2 separate regions of the Homo sapiens genome follow, and region 2 is linked to region 1. Evidence: fine-mapped QTL for protein levels in blood plasma. A gene starts in region 1. The other region holds a variant in brackets. All regions are shown on one strand. Distances are from middle to middle.

Evidence for each region. PIP is the posterior inclusion probability: the model's chance that the variant is causal. The UK Biobank Pharma Proteomics Project read protein levels with antibody pairs (Olink). The fine-mapping took linkage between variants from a reference panel, not from the people measured, so its PIPs are less certain.
Region 2: its variant is fine-mapped to the plasma level of the LRTM2 protein (UK Biobank, PIP above 0.99). The variant lies in the coding sequence of LRTM2. If it changes the protein, the assay may bind it differently, which can mimic a change of level.

Annotation. Positions count from the first base shown.
Region 1 is chr12:1,819,149-1,822,050 of GRCh38, forward strand. LRTM2 (leucine rich repeat transmembrane protein 2) reads left to right here and starts at 1,417. Exons shown (of 5, transcript NM_001039029.3): 1 at 1,417-1,666. All of the region lies in intron 26 of CACNA2D4 (calcium voltage-gated channel auxiliary subunit alpha2delta 4), which reads right to left. RefSeq lists an enhancer at 987-1,733.
Region 2 is chr12:1,830,205-1,833,106 of GRCh38, forward strand. All of the region lies in intron 26 of CACNA2D4 (calcium voltage-gated channel auxiliary subunit alpha2delta 4), which reads right to left. It overlaps LRTM2 (leucine rich repeat transmembrane protein 2), which reads left to right. Exons shown (of 5, transcript NM_001039029.3): 4 at 731-1,321. Among named protein-coding and RNA genes, the nearest start is that of LRTM2, 11 kb to the left of the region's middle. RefSeq lists an enhancer at 357-970. The variant G/A (reference allele first, on the strand shown) is at 1,144.

The DNA.
Region 1 (2,902 bases):
GTTTAAGGAAGGGGGAAGCCACCCATGGGCAGGAGAGCATTTCAGGCCCAGGGAAGAACACGCTTTCATGGAGATGGAGAAGCAGGAAGTATGTTTATGGGGAGGTGGGAGCCTCTTTTGCTTGACAGTGGGATGTGTGGGAGGCACCAGCATGAGAGGTCAGAGGCGGGACTCCCCAGAGGTAAAAGACACTGCAGCTCAAGCCTTGTGCTGCCCGGGGACCCGGCAGAACGGACAGAAGGGAGTGAGCAGGAGCATCCTTCTAGGGGCATCCTGAGTCCAGGGGGTTCTTCTACACCCACCCCAGTCCTGGCTGTGAACCCCTCCAGCAAAGCAGGCAAAATGGAAGAGGGACATAGGACACGGTGATATATCGCTAGCACGGTGCTTCATCTGTCTACAGGCAGTGGACGCAAAGGAAGGGGGATTTAGGGTTCGTGCTCCAGGCTGGTGGGGCCCTGGCTCCCCTCTAGCTTGGTCCCTGACTCACTTGGCCTTCAGATCAGCCACTTCCCATCTCTTAGGATATCAATTTTTCTGACTTGCTTTGTCCTGATTGGTTAAGAAAGAGGCCTCCAAGTTCTTGAATGACAGTCTCTTCCCTTCGCATGCCTGACCCATCACAGATAAGAGCAAGGAGCCCTGAGAAGCCAAGCTCGTCCCTGGCACTGAGAACGGTCTGCAGGCTGCTGCTGCAGGCTGCCCTGTGCCCAAACTCCCAGCCTGCCAACTCTGGCATTCTGCTTCCCTAAGTAGTCCTGGCGTCGGGTGGTCAGACCCTGAGGCTCAGTGACCTCTGCATGACCATGTGATCCCTGGCTTTGTGGGGGCTCAGGGCCCTTTCCTGTAGGGTCATCTGGCACATGGACATGCCTGTGTACCCTTCTTTCGTATGACCGAGAGAAGGGTTCGGTTTTTCCTTCTCTCAGGCAGGATGGGAGACTCTGCCTCGCATGTCTCTAAAACAGGAGAAAGACCAGCTTCCCAGGGGGGCCTCCATCGGAACAGAAGTCAGCCGCTTGCTCTGTGTCTGCGCCTGTCCCTCTTTCCCCAGATGGAGGGGAAGAGAGGAGAGAGGCACAGAAGACAGGTGCAGCCGGGGGGGTGAGGGAGAGCCTGGAGGCGCAGGATGGAAGATGGAGGTGGTGGTGAAACCGCTTTCCTCCTCCCTGTGGTCGGCAGCGATTCATCCACAGGCGCCTTTTTCCACTGAAATGTGAGCGTGGCCAGGGTGAGCGCTGCCCTCGCGGCCGGCCGTGGTGCCTCTGGTGTGCGCCTGTGTGTGCTGCTGCCGCTGTCATCACAGATGCACCCCAGCTGTCACTCCCCGCTCCACTCTGGCTCGCTGCTCGCGCACACGCGTGCGCTCTCCTCCCTCGCCCCTTTCTTCCCTCTCTCCTCTCTCTCTCTCCCTCCATCCCTCTCTTTCCTTCTCAGTTTGTGACTGACCCAGCAGCCCCGTCCCCCGTCTGCCACAAGCAGTCCACCTCCTGGTGCTGTGTGCTGCGTGCCAGCCGCTGCTCCCGCTGAGTGGAGACTCTGGCACCAGTGCCCACTGCGCTCTGCCTGCCGGTGGTGTCTGGATTTCTATAGGAATCCCAGGAGGGTCTTACTGGAGGGTTGAGAGCCACCTGATTGAAGGCGTTTGCAGTCAGAGTAAAGACGGGTGAGTACCGAGTGGCTGGTAGGAAGGAATGGAGGGTTGGTGGGGACAGGGGGTGGTCGGGGCATGGGAAGTGGGCACCGGCCATCTCTGCCCTGCAGGAATAGCTGCAGTTGCTTCCTACCTGCAGGCAATTGCTGGGGCCGAAGAAGCTGCTCGGGCTCAGGCACCTGAGCATCCCAAAGGTGCACGACACTGGGAACTCTGAGCCCACAGTGCTGGGGACAAGAGCTGTGGATTCTGCTGGGAAGTGGGGAGGAGGGCAGCGCTGGCGCCAGATGACAGTCCCGGGTGGCATAGAAACCGGTCCCTGCAGCATGGGAGAAGCAGCCAAGAGCCTTGTGCTGTCGTTGTGCCCGGCTCTGCACAGACAGCCCCAAGAAACTCGGGGGTCATGGGAAGCGGTTGGGATGGCAGTCAGGTGCTGGGGACAGGGCCAGGTCAGAGGAAGGCTTGGGGTGGAGGGTGGCAGGGAGGAGGTCCTGGATGTCAGAGGCATGGGCACAGACCCAGGTCCTGGGCCTCCCTATAGCTTGCCTGCAGGTGGCTGTCCTTGGACAAGGGTGTGGAGGAACCCTCCCCCAGATGAGCATGGGCCCACTCAGCTGTGCATGAAGCCTCCCTGGTGAGGGTGAGGCTGGGAGTGGGCAGGAGAGAGAAGTATCGCAGCCCTTCCCTGCTAGCCCAAGGGCAAGACAGGAGAACCAGGCCCGCGAGAACCTGCTGGGGTGTCCCGCAGCTGTGCACCCAGCCGTCCATCTGCAAATGGGTCAGGGAGCCTTAGTGGGGGCTGGACACTGAGCTTGGGTGGGGGGTACACAGCGGGGCCAGGCCTGCCTGGCTTCTTGACCCACACAGGGGGCATGGACACCCTGAGTAGAGCGGGACAGTTGCTCTCAATCCCCCAGACCCATTTGGACAGTGCTGGAGAGAGGAGCAGCCTGACCAGGAGTCGGAAGTTCACATTCCTGCACCTCCCTGCAGGTCTGGGGCTGGGTTCCAGTTGGCGGCCCTGTCTCTCCCCCACCCCCAAGCTGTCCACATTTCTGGGGGGTGTTGGCACCCGGCTGTCAGGGCTACTTGGGCAGTGTCTCTTTGTGACTCAGATGACACCCCTGCAGCTTAGATAACTGCCTCAGGTGGGGGCGGGGAGGGAGCCGAGCACGTGGAGCTGAGGCGGGGGAAGTCCAGCTGGTAGGGAAACCCGACAGCAGCTTCCGAGCTGCCAAGAAGAGCCCA
Region 2 (2,902 bases), 11 kb after region 1:
GTCAATGTTGAAGTGGGTTTGTACATCTTAGCCTGTCACTCCCACAGTGGGACCCTAGGTGCACAGCCTGGGCTCTAAATCCTCATGCCAAACTGCTGGCGTCATCATGGGTGTGGGATTGATGGAAACATAACAGCACTTGGGACGCCGTGAAGGACAGGGCTAGGAGTGCTGTTTTGTGCTCTCGCCTTTCCATACACAGCTCCAGAGTTGGGGTGGGCCACAGAGGGGAGGGAGCCAGCAGCCTGGCCATTTTCCCTGGGAAACAAACTCTGTCCCAGCAGTGACACTGGGAGAGGGCATGGGAGCAGGTTTCTCTGACAACCTTATCTCCTTTCTTGTGTCAACATCCATGGTGTCAGTGGGACCCAAACTCCCCGGGAGATGACTGTGGGAGGCCCTGTGAGCTTCCTATCACTGCACCAGCATGGCTTGTCTCTGGGCTCTGGCTGAGTCTGCAGGGTCATTCTCCACTCAAGTGATTCCTCTGCCAGATGTGTGGCAAGGCAGGGCGCCCTGCAGACACTGTGTGATGTCCATTAATATGGAAGTGGCTTTGGATTTGTTAATTATGCTTTTATGTGGTTAATAAACGTTTATGCATTGATTGTGGCTTGTGCCAAAGGAGATAAAGCCAAGAGCCTGTTATGAGCTAGAAAGGAGGGAAGAGAAGCAGGAGGTGGTGACCCGTCCTATTGCTTTCTTTCCCCCGTCTGTCCCTCCCACCAAGGGATCACCTGCTGGATCGCCCTGTATGCTGTGGAGGCCCTCCCCACCTGCCCTTTCTCCTGCAAGTGTGACAGCCGCAGCCTGGAGGTGGACTGCAGTGGCCTTGGCCTCACCACGGTGCCCCCAGACGTGCCCGCAGCCACCCGAACCCTCTTGCTCTTGAACAATAAGCTGAGTGCCCTGCCAAGCTGGGCTTTCGCCAACCTCTCCAGCCTGCAGCGGTTGGACCTGTCCAACAACTTCCTGGACCGGCTGCCCCGCTCCATTTTCGGGGACCTGACGAATCTGACTGAGCTTCAGCTGCGCAATAACAGCATCAGGACCCTGGACAGGGACCTGCTGCGGCACTCGCCGCTGCTCCGCCACCTGGACCTGTCCATCAACGGCCTGGCCCAGTTGCCCCCTGGTCTTTTC[G/A]ACGGGCTCCTGGCTCTGCGCTCCCTCTCGCTTCGCTCCAACCGTCTGCAGAATCTGGACCGGCTGACATTTGAACCCCTAGCAAACCTGCAGCTGCTGCAGGTCGGGGATAACCCCTGGGAGTGTGACTGTAACCTGCGTGAGTTCAAACACTGGATGGAGTGGTTCTCCTACCGAGGTGAGCGCAGCCGGCCCTGCTGGGGCCCGAGGGATTGGGACGATCACCTCTGGCCCCACACTTTCCTCCTGGTGGCTGGGTGCTGACTCAGAGAGCAGGCCAGGGGAAAGAAGGGGGCGACCCTGCCTCTGTGCCAGCTCGGCTAGAAAAGTCACAAGCCTCCCCTCACATGAGCCATCACCCTTCCTGCCAATGGGAGAGAGGCTGGTGCTGCTCCCTCCACCCCCACCCTCCCCTCCCTGCTCTGCATCCCCTCCCCCAGCCAGCTCCCCACTTTCTCCTAGGACTCACTGAACTGGATCTCCCTTTCTTAGGTTACATAAGGGCAGTAAAGACACCTGGGCTTTGTATCCCGCCAAGTTTGCCTGTGGGCTTCCCCAGTGTGGTAGAAGGAGGGAGAAAAACAGCTCTTCTGAAGAATACAGCCATCTCTTAAACATCTCCCCTTACATGAGAGGGGAATAGAATGAATCCTCAGTAAAACCAAATCTTCCTTTTGGTGACAGTGCCAACTTCCTCTCCCAAGTTTTATTATCCAAACTTTAAGAAGAAGTCAAATGGGTTAGGCTTTACTTTCTTCCCTTCCCATTTTCTTTAATATGGGAAAGTGCTGTAATGACCTATGACATGATCACATGACATGGGAGAGGAGGGTGCGCAAGATGGTGGTGAGGAGGGCCAGGTCTGCGTCTGAATTTCGGCTCTGCCACCTGCCAGCTGTGTGATCTTGAGAAAGCTGGTTACCCTTTCGCTGTGGCAGGGCCTGGTCTGTAAAGTGGGAAGGAAACAATATCTATTTCGTAGGGTCATTATGAGAATTAAATGTGGCAATGCACGGAACGTGGCTTGAGAGGTGCCCAGCACAAAGTGAGTCCTCAATAAAACGTCCATTTATCCGTTCACTTCCTGGTAATAATCAAATACTAAGTGGACTTGAAACACCATTTGGCACGAAGAAGATGCTCAATGAATGTTTGCTGGGCTAAGGAATCAACATTTAAGTGGTGAAAATAATGCCAATGCTTTTTGTTAAAGTCTTACTACTTTCATTTAATCTCCAGCCACAATTTCAATTATTTCCATGAAATTCTCCTGTGTTAGTTAATTAAAAATGTTTTACAAACTATAAAGTGCCACAAAATGTTAGTCACTATGATCATTTCCCCCATTTTCATGAGCGGGGAAATAATGATTACTACTTATATAGTTTCCAGTTTACCAATGTCTTTTCATGTACATGATTTTAAACCTTACAGCAGCTAATTGAGATAGACCTTCTTATTTTACAGCTAAGAAAACTAAAACTCATAAGTAATTAAATAAATTAAATAATTTTCACAAGATGACACAGCCAGGATTCAACCGTGGGTCTTCCCAGCAGGGAAATGAGGCTGCATCCCTGTCAGCACCCAGCTTTGCATCCCCAGGCAGCACTGATACGTGTTCCTGGGATGTGAGGTTTGCTGCAGGCCACCGAGGTGTCAGCCGCACAGGGGAACTAGGCCGGGTGTCTTCAGACCCTCCTCTCCTGTGGTCGCCGGGAACTGAATTCCCAGCACAAAAATGCATGCCATGAGAATG